Regions from separate parts of the Homo sapiens genome. Here all the other regions are reported to be linked to region 3. The links are microRNA targets in miRTarBase. Many come from high-throughput screens and were not tested one by one. Region 3 holds a microRNA gene; each other region holds the end of a gene's coding sequence.

Evidence for each region. Region 3 holds the annotated microRNA hsa-miR-6846-5p (UGGGGGCUGGAUGGGGUAGAGU, at 1,113-1,134, shown strand). A microRNA usually pairs through its seed, bases 2 to 8, with sites in the 3' UTR of a target mRNA and lowers its output. Matches are read on the target gene's strand: a 7mer-m8 pairs with bases 2 to 8, a 7mer-A1 pairs with bases 2 to 7 and ends in A, and an 8mer does both.
Region 1: the mRNA of G6PC3 is a reported target of hsa-miR-6846-5p. Seed matches in the 3' UTR shown: 8mer at 733-740.
Region 2: miRTarBase lists TBC1D28 as a target of hsa-miR-6846-5p. Seed matches in the 3' UTR shown: 7mer-A1 at 970-976.

Annotation. Positions count from the first base shown.
Region 1 is chr17:44,075,515-44,078,759 of GRCh38, forward strand. It overlaps G6PC3 (glucose-6-phosphatase catalytic subunit 3), which reads left to right. Exons shown (of 6, transcript NM_138387.4): 6 at 166-830. The coding sequence ends at 529. It overlaps HDAC5 (histone deacetylase 5), which reads right to left. Exons shown (of 27, transcript NM_005474.5): 26 at 2,986-3,151; 27 at 1,239-2,901. The coding sequence ends at 2,862. Among named protein-coding and RNA genes, the nearest start is that of G6PC3, 6.4 kb to the left of the region's middle. RefSeq lists enhancers at 1-494, 1,512-2,051.
Region 2 is chr17:18,633,806-18,637,050 of GRCh38, reverse strand. It overlaps TBC1D28 (TBC1 domain family member 28), which reads left to right. Exons shown (of 10, transcript NM_001039397.3): 10 at 454-2,804. The coding sequence ends at 589. Among named protein-coding and RNA genes, the nearest start is that of TBC1D28, 9.0 kb to the left of the region's middle.
Region 3 is chr8:144,055,243-144,058,487 of GRCh38, reverse strand. It overlaps MIR6846 (microRNA 6846), which reads left to right and starts at 1,108; the gene lies at 1,108-1,167. OPLAH (5-oxoprolinase, ATP-hydrolysing) reads left to right here. Exons shown (of 27, transcript NM_017570.5): 7 at 84-249; 8 at 340-478; 9 at 565-632; 10 at 775-1,040; 11 at 1,168-1,280; 12 at 1,370-1,540; 13 at 1,733-1,870; 14 at 1,965-2,103; 15 at 2,229-2,341; 16 at 2,549-2,700.

The sequences.
Region 1 (3,245 bases), not on the chromosome of region 3:
GTGTGTCTCTGGTTCATTATAGCTAAAAAAGGACACATTACCTATTCACATAGACCCTCACAGGCACAAAACAGAACATGGGAGTGGGCCCCAAGGGCAGATGGCCAAGAGCCAGTGGCCTTCTATGTTCCAGCCTCTCCTGGCAAGAACTCTTCTTCCCCACAGGTCCATCAGCCTAGCCTTCAAGTGGTGTGAGCGGCCTGAGTGGATACACGTGGATAGCCGGCCCTTTGCCTCCCTGAGCCGTGACTCAGGGGCTGCCCTGGGCCTGGGCATTGCCTTGCACTCTCCCTGCTATGCCCAGGTGCGTCGGGCACAGCTGGGAAATGGCCAGAAGATAGCCTGCCTTGTGCTGGCCATGGGGCTGCTGGGCCCCCTGGACTGGCTGGGCCACCCCCCTCAGATCAGCCTCTTCTACATTTTCAATTTCCTCAAGTACACCCTCTGGCCATGCCTAGTCCTGGCCCTCGTGCCCTGGGCAGTGCACATGTTCAGTGCCCAGGAAGCACCGCCCATCCACTCTTCCTGACTTCTTGTGTGCCTCCCTTTCCTTTCCCTCCCACAAAGCCAACACTCTGTGACCACCACACTCCAGGAGGCAGCCCCATCCCCTTCCAGCCCCTAAGTAGGCCCTCCCCTCCCTAAATCTGCTTCCGCACCACCTGGTCTTAGCCCCAAAGATGGGCCTTCTCTCTCCCAGATAAGTTGGTCCTCCCTCTGCCTTTCCTCTCAAGCCCCCAAAGAGCAAAGGCAACAGCAAGACCAGCGGGTTCTTGCAACACTGTGAGGGGCAGCCAGGGCGGCCCCAATAAAGCCCTTGAATACTTTGAGATTCCTTTCTTGCCTATGCGCACATCTCCATGGGCCTTGCCTGTGTGTGCACAAGTGGAACCTTTGCCAGGCTGCTCCAGTAGTCTCTGTGCCATCTCCAGCCCTGTTTCCAGGGGCAGAGAGGCAGGAAAGGAGAGGGCTGTAAACTCAGGTGAGACCTCTCAGCCCTGGGTCCCCTGCCTCATCACTGCCTAGGCCACATGAGAGGTCCCATGAGATGCTGTGACTATATTCGGTATAACCCTGTCTTTTCACTTACAGGACAGATCTTGCGCCCCAACCTCCAGTTTCCTAAATCGGCTTCTAGTCCAGGGGCTGGAGAAAAGAGTAGTGTGTTTGGCTAGGAAGGAGGATGAGAACCTCTACTCCATTTGGGAGCCCAGAGAATAGAGACATTGGCCCCAGAAGGCACTGCCAGAAACAAGTTTATTTACACAAGGACACACAGTGTAACGGGTTACAAAATACTTAACTGAAATCCATATCCAGGGAGACAAAGCAAGGAGTGGGTTTACATGAGAACCAGACCAGCCACAGGGAGAGAGTGGGTAAGGGGCCGGGAGCCTGGGGCTCAGCACAGAGAGGCCTAGTACACTGAGCCTGGCCCCATCCCCATCCCCCAGGAGGATCTAAAACAAACACACAAGCACACTATGAACCGATGGTGCTGGGACTCCTGCCCCTCCCCTGGCTCCCTCAATCCTGCTCAGGCCCCCATAGGATAATAAATATGTAAACAGATTGGTGGGGCCCTGGAGATAGAAGGAGAGAAAGTATATGTGGTACTGGGGAGGAGGAGGAAGGAAGAGTCAGCCCCCTAGGAGCCACTTCCCATCTTTGGTTTCCTACAGGCTGGATGGCATCCCCTGGAAGCCTTGTAGGCCCACAGCCCCTGGCAGGGCTCCTGGGAAAGAGAAGGGACAGCGCCCAGCCCCCTCCTGGTCTTAGCTCCCTTGGGCTGGTGGTCAGCAAAGGGAGCCCAGAAGGTATGGAAGCTCCAGCTGAGAGCCGACTCCTGGATCCCTGGGTTCTGGCCTTACCCCTTCTAGAACCTCCATTCTCACCATCCCCAGGATCCAAAACAAAAGGCCCCAGGAGGGAGGTGAGCCTCTGCCCCTTCTCCCCGCAGCATGCTGGATGGCTGGGAAAATCTGGTCCTGACAGCAGGGGGGCTCTCACCAGCCTGGAGCCCCTCTGCAGGGACCACCTTCTCCCCTTGCCCAGGCTGTGCCAGCAGAGGGGCAGGGAGGCCATCCGAGTAAGGTGGGGAGCAGACCTGGTTCTGTTACTCCTCCTGGCCCCTGAGAACCCAGGAAACCAGTCCTCTCCTTCCCCACACACTTTCACCCTCTCAGCCCCGGGGAAGGGGAAGTAGGCTGTGAGGAGTGTGAGGCAAGACAGCCCTCCTCACAGACTGCAGGCCACAGCTTGGGCACCAGCCTCCCATCAGTGCTGAGACCAAGAGGAAGGAGGAGGAGAGGGGTCTGCAGAGATGGTGAGGACGAAAGAAGGGGAAAGGGTGGAGAATCGCAGGGTGGGTGCCCACCTCCCCTCCACTCTGCATCTTAAAGACAGTAGTGGATCCTCCAGATCCTCCCCTGAGGCTGGAGAAGGGAGGAGAGTGAAATTAAGGCATTTCCCCCCAAATCAGCTGAAACCAAGGCACCGACTTCCCGTTCCCTCCTCACTCGGGGGGCCCCAGAACTGGAGAGTACTGTCTGGGCCCCCGTGCCCACCTTGAGCTGGCCCAGGCTCCAAGGAGGAAAAGGACAGACAGAATGCAGGAAAATGGGGGGAGGGACACATGGGACAGGGCTGGGAAGACACCACCACCCCCTGCAGAGGGAGCAGGCTTCTAGAGCTGAGGTGGAAGCCACAGGGCTGGGGGCCTGAGGCAGCGTAGAGGAGCAGGAGGGGCAAGGCTGAGAGACCCACACGGCACACCTTGTTGAATGTGTGACTTTTTGTTTTTAATAGAAAAAATAAACAAAATCACAATGGTGAAGCCCAGAGGGATGGGGGCCGGGGCGTCACAGGGCAGGCTCCTGCTCCATGGGCTCCTCTGCCGGCCTGTGGGGCAAGCACAGGGGAGGGTATTGAGTGGGGCGCACCAGCAGGGGTGAGGGCAGAGAGGTGGTGCGGGTTGCTGCTTACCTGGGGCTGTGTTCCCGGGCTGCCGCAGCCTGGGCCTGCTCGGCCCCCACCGACAGCAAGGCCATGGCGCTCACAGTCTCGGCCTCCTCGGTCTCACCTGCTTGGGCCTCTCGCAGGGACCGGCCCAGACCAGCGGCGAACTTCTGCACACAGCTCCAGTGTTTGCCTGTGGACGAGAGACAGGCAAGGGGTCAGGGAGGGCAGAGGACACCCACATGAACAGTCCCAGTCCTGGTGCTCCCACAAGCTCCGTGCCCCCT
Region 2 (3,245 bases), not on the chromosome of region 3:
AGACAAAGAACAGATCAGGATGGCCAGGGGCTGACAGAGCCGGGAGACGTTGCCTGCAAAGGGGACATGCTAGGGACTTGGAAGATGAAGGAGCCGCTCTGGGAGGGGCTGCAGTGGTGGACGGGAGGCTCTGCACATTAGTTCAGAATCGTGGAACTGCACGTCCCAAAGACTGGACTTCTGTGTGTGCAAACTGAGAAAAAGGGGAAGAAAAAATCAACCAGAGTGAAAAATGATCACTGATCCAACTGTACACCTACGACATTGCATTGCAAGGAATGTGGATTTTACTGAAAAAAAATTCCTAAAAACTCAGGTGTCCTAAAGAGCTCACTGCTTATTTGGGGGGATCATCTGAACCCAGAATTGTGTTCGTTATTTGGGTTTGTAGACAAAATGAAATTGACAGCGTCTGCACAAAAAAAACAAAACCCTCTTTCCCCTCTTTTCTAGGCAGCAGGAATTATGTGACATCCTCGTGGCCTATTCTGCATATAACCCTGTGAGTATTCCCGGGCAGCGATATTCCTGGTACCTGTGCCCATATTCACAGGCATGGGTGTCTCTCGGGGGTGTTGCAACTTCTTGAAAATTCAGCGTTTGTCCACCAGGACGTAGTAGGCAGGACTTCAGCTCGCTGCTGGCAGAAAAGGGTTGAAGCCCAGACTCCTGGTCTCACATGGACCCAATCACCACATCTCAGATGAAGAAATGACCTTCCCCTCCTGGTGTTGCCCCAAAGCCTAGGAGCTTGGCAGGGTCCCACACAGGATGGTCCTTGTAGGAGACAGGTTTGACAAGTTGCTGAGGTGCCTGATGGGCCAGGCACTTGTCATGAAATGAGTTTGCATCCTGGGGGAGCCTCTTCTTCACTGGAAACCTGGCAAGGATCCAATTTCCCCTTTGCCTGATCCCCACAGGAGCATAGCAGATAGGGAGGGGGGTCACCCAGGTGGCTCTTCCTGCTTGGCCCCCACTTTCCAGACCATTCCAGGCAGGGAGAGCTGCTGAGCTGACTGCATGAGCTGCCCACATGGAGGACCCAGCCACCCCTTATGTTCGGCAGGCAGCCCTTGGGCTGTTGCAGGACCGTGGCCAGTTCTTGGTATTGCTCAAGTCCCCTGGGCCTTCAGACTGGCGGGTGACTTCAAGGGAGCAACCATCCTGGGCCTCTCCTGGGACAAACACTTGCCTTCACCCACTATCGATGTCTTGCTCAGCCCTCAGAGGAGCGTGGTTGGCGTGGATTACTTCATGCCTTGATTCTGCCTTCCCGGAAACCACGGTGGCAGCAGGCTTGGATGTCACCAAGTCACCGTGTTTCATGCTATTTCTGGAGGTTCTCGCCTTTGTGGCCTCGGAAAGGAAGGCGATCTGGTGCTTTGGGGAAAGCCCTCGGGATGCTCCTCCAGATGGTCTTCTTCAGGCCTTTTGCTCAGCATTGGTCTGATCAGTTCTGCCAGCTCTGGGCCATGATCTCTTGGCACTGGCGCGGCTTTCCTTCAATAATTCCATAAACTCCAGACTTCGTGTCTTTTGCATGGAAAGCACGCGGTGCCCATTTCATCGACACCGCACCCCGGAGTCCAAACGTCAGCCCTGCGGGTGTTGGGTTTGTTAGGGACAATTTCGGGCTCAGGTGCAGGGGGCGCTTCCCCAGCGCGGGCGCTTCCTGGGCCCCATCTGAGGCCGTGGGCTCCTGGCAGGAGGACCTGGAGTTTTCAGATCCCCGGGAAGGATGCATTTCCCCCACTCTCGGGCACAAGCTGCCCTTTGCTGGCGTTGGGCACGGATCATGGCCTCGCAGAAGCCCGCGACAGCGTGGAGCAGGTGGTGCCCCCGCCCGGGACTCCTGGTGGGTGATGGCTCCGGGAGGCCTTGGCTGGGACAGAGTGGGGCCTCCGGGTCGGTCAGCGGCCCGAGCCCGGCTGCGGCTCTCGGAGGCTTGGGTTTGGAAGACACCGCCTGCCATCCCGCGGCGCCTCTCGGGGTCCGCTCCCCCGGACTGGCCCTGCCCACCGCGCGCGAGTAGTAGCGGGCGGCCAGGAGTCAGTGGCAGGCGCGGCCGGTGGGATGCCGGGTAGGAGGCTGCGCTGGAGCCCGCTGGGCAGCGCCGACCCCTAAGGCAGCCGGGCGGGTGAGCGAGCAGAGGCGTGGGCGGCTGAGGGGCTGAGGGGCTGAGGCGGCTGAGGCGGCTGAGGGGCTGAGGAGGCTGAGGGGCTGAGGGGCTGAGGCGGCTGAGGGGCTGAGGGGCTGAGGGGCGGGCAGCCTGGCCGGTCCCTGCCGCAGGGTCCACCGCACGTCACGTGGCCGAATCCCTCGGGCTGCTTTCTCTCTGGGCTGTTTTCTTACTGTGAACCTCGTGGGCTCCTGCTCGGTGTCCTTTCTTACTCTGTCTCTGTTTTTGCATTCTATTGGCAAGTATTTTATTTAGGATATTTTACTGATATAACTGAGGATGAACTGTGTTTTGCAGCATTTTGTTTTATTACGCGTTTTCTCCTAGATTTTGGTATCATTTTTATGCTGACTTGATTAAACATTTTGGAAACTTTCCTGGAACTGATAGCTTTTATATGATCTTTTTCTTGAGGTAATAAAATAATTTACTTTGAAATGTCTCAGCCTAACAACTTTTGTGCTTTTGTTGTTTTGTGCAGAGGTGGGAAGACTCCTTTGCATTTTTGGTATCACTTCTGTGTTAATGATTTTGTTGTTTGTTTCGCAAAATCACTTAGTGATCCGTGTTTTCCAACTTAAGAGTTAACATGTACCATTTTGTGAAATAAAAAAAGTCTCGTATATCTCTTTGTATGTCTCTTTTCGTTTGTCATATTTGGAATTGCCTTTTTTTTTTATCATTAGTTTAAAGCAGGAATTTATTAAATATTCCAAAAAGACCGAAGTTTTACTTCATCTCCTAGGCATTCATTTTTCAGTGTGTTATTCACTGATTTCTCCATGTTCATTAATATTTGGAATAATTTATGTAAATTGATTATTGCTGCGTTATGAGCTTATGGAGCAACATTCTTTGTCTTCAGTATTTTAATGTATTTTTCTATTAAATATACTTCAGTCACTTATACCATATTTAGGATTATTTTCCTAATTCTAGACCTACTAATTATAAACTGGAATGCTGATAATTTTCCCTAAGCTTCAATTGTTTATAATTTATTCATTTATTTATGACAGATGGGCATAAAACTACTTTATTACAAAGATTTAATGATGTGTAGAGA
Region 3 (3,245 bases):
GTGAGGCACCCCCACTGCCCACTCCTGGGCCTGGGCCTGGGCCTTGGCCTGCCCCTCATGGCCCGCCTGCTGCCCGCTCGCAGGATGTGCAGGTGTTGTTCATGCGCTCCGATGGCGGCCTGGCGCCCATGGACACCTTCAGCGGCTCCAGTGCTGTGCTCTCGGGCCCGGCCGGCGGCGTGGTGGGCTACTCAGCCACCACCTACCAGCAGGAGGGTGGCCAGCCTGTCATCGGCTTTGACATGGGAGGTATGAGGGCCGAGGGCTGGGGTCTCGGGGAGGCTCAGCTGCTGGGCCCCTGGGTCTTCAAGTGACCCACCAGCACCCCACCCCTGCCAGGCACGTCCACGGATGTGAGCCGCTATGCTGGGGAATTCGAGCACGTCTTCGAGGCCAGCACAGCTGGCGTCACCCTCCAGGCCCCGCAGCTGGACATCAACACCGTGGCAGCGGGAGGGGGTTCCCGCCTCTTCTTCAGGTCAGCTCTCCTGCTTCCCAGGCTGGGACCCCAGCCCTGTCTCCCTCCTCGTGTCCAACTCCAACCCCAGCCCTTCCTTCCCCTAGGTCTGGCCTCTTTGTGGTTGGGCCCGAGTCAGCAGGAGCCCACCCAGGACCCGCCTGCTACCGCAAAGGTAAGAGTCAGGATCTGGCCGGCCTGGCCTTGCCCTCCGCTTGCCGCCGCAGGCCCAGCCCCTCCTGTCAGCCCTATCCCTGCTGCCTACTCCTGCTCCCCTGCCTCCAGCCCCCAAGCCCCACACCCTGTCCACCTCCCAGGGGGCCCTGTGACAGTGACGGATGCTAATCTGGTCCTGGGTCGCCTGCTGCCTGCCTCCTTCCCCTGCATTTTTGGGCCGGGAGAGAACCAACCACTTTCCCCTGAGGCCTCCCGCAAAGCCCTGGAGGCTGTGGCCACTGAGGTCAACAGCTTCCTGACCAACGGGCCCTGCCCGGCCTCCCCGCTGAGCCTGGAGGAGGTGGCCATGGGGTTCGTGCGCGTGGCCAACGAGGCCATGTGCCGGCCCATCCGTGCACTCACGCAGGTACGTCCACCTCTGCTCTCCCGCCTGTCCTGCCCCCAGCCCTGCTCCCTGCCCCAGGCCTCCTGCTCAGGCTGGGGGCTGGATGGGGTAGAGTAGGAGAGCCCACTGACCCCTTCTGTCTCCCTAGGCAAGAGGCCATGACCCCTCAGCCCATGTGCTGGCCTGCTTTGGGGGAGCTGGTGGGCAGCATGCATGTGCCATCGCCCGGGCCCTGGGCATGGACACGGTGCACATCCACAGGTGGGCCTGGGTGTGGGTGCACGGAGGTGGTGTGATCTGCGCCGGGCTTGGGAGGTGACCTCCCATTGCCATGCTGCCCATCCCTGCAGGCACAGTGGGCTGCTGTCGGCCCTGGGGCTGGCCCTGGCTGACGTGGTGCATGAGGCACAGGAACCCTGCTCCCTGCTCTACGCGCCTGAGACCTTCGTGCAGCTGGACCAGAGGCTGAGCCGCCTGGAGGAGCAGTGTGTGGATGCTCTGCAGGCCCAGGGCTTCCCCAGGTGGGCTCCCAGGGTGCCCTGGACAGAGGGCTTACGTTGTCCTCACCACGCCCTTGGTGGGTGTTCCTCCTGATGACTTCCCAGGTGGTCCCGGGGTGTGCGAGAAGCAGAACAGGTGTCCTTGCCGGGCGCTGGGTGGGGTGGGGTCAGGGCAGGGGGTTTGGTGTGAGTGCCCCCAACCACCTGCTGCAGGTCCCAGATCAGCACTGAGAGCTTCCTGCACCTGCGCTACCAGGGCACGGACTGTGCTCTGATGGTGTCTGCCCACCAGCACCCAGCCACAGCCCGCTCGCCCCGTGCGGGGGACTTCGGGGCAGCCTTTGTGGAGCGGTACGTGGCTTCCTGACTCCGGATCCCTGGCAAGGGGCCCTCCTGTCTGGCCGCCTCACTCTGACCACTCCTTGGGTCCCCGCGGGGAGTGCAGGTACATGAGGGAGTTTGGCTTTGTCATACCTGAGCGGCCGGTGGTCGTGGACGATGTGCGAGTGCGGGGCACCGGCCGCAGTGGTCTTCGCCTCGAGGATGCCCCCAAAGCCCAGACCGGGCCTCCCCGGGTGGACAAGGTTGGTGGTCCTGCCTGTGCCAGCCTGACAGCACCCATGGGGCACCGGGATGGGGACCAAGCCCTGTGAGAGGCATCGGGGAGGGTGCTGGGCCCGGGCGCTGTACTCACCCGCACCCTCTGCAGATGACCCAGTGCTACTTTGAGGGGGGCTACCAGGAGACCCCTGTGTACCTGCTGGCAGAGCTGGGCTATGGGCACAAGCTCCATGGGCCCTGCCTCATCATCGACAGTAACAGGTGGGCTGAAGTCCGGCCAGGGTGGAGGATGTGGACGGGTCCACTGCGGGGCCCCTGGTGCAGGGTTCTCTGGCCCAAGGCTGCAGGGGCCTGCAGGACTCTGTATCCCACCATCGTTGGGGTGGCCCCTGGCCTGGGGCCGTGGCATCTCTGGTTGGAGGGGTGTCGCCTGGCCCCATGCAGCCCTCTGTGCCCTCTGCTCCCCAGCACCATCCTGGTGGAGCCAGGTTGCCAGGCAGAGGTGACCAAGACAGGGGACATCTGCATCTCCGTGGGGGCCGAAGTCCCCGGCACAGTGGGCCCCCAGCTGGACCCTATCCAGCTGTCCATCTTCTCACACCGCTTCATGAGCATTGCTGGTGAGTGGCCGCTGCCAGGCTCCCTGTGGGATGAGGCGCCGGCTGTGTCATGGGGTAGCTGGCAGGGCTGTGCCCAAAGGGAGAGGCAGAAGCAGGACCCCCTGGCGACGGGGCGGGCAGTGTGGCCGCAGCACTGGTGTGGTGCAGTTGGCCATGAGAACAAACCTTGGGCAGGGAGGACACCTTCCCCCCTTACCTGCAGCCATGTGATCCAGAGAGTGCCCTCCTAGCTAAGGAAGGGATACTGAGGACAGCACAGGGAACCCATCTGTGCAGGGTCAGGCCAGCGGCTTGCTGGGAGCCCAGAGGTCAAGAGCCTAGGAACCAGGTTCTTGCTGTGCCAGGCAGGGTGGGAGGGTCGAGGGGTGGCACTGGGTTCTTGCTGGGGGCTCCAGGCAGGGCTGGGGAAGGTGGTGTCCTTTACATAGGCTAAGACGTGGCCAAGTGGGCACACCGTCAACTTGGTCTTCCCCAGGAAAAAGCTGCTGGGTTTTTCCTGGGTCCTGGGTTTGAGTCCTGGTGGGTCCTGTTCCTCCCTTTCCTGG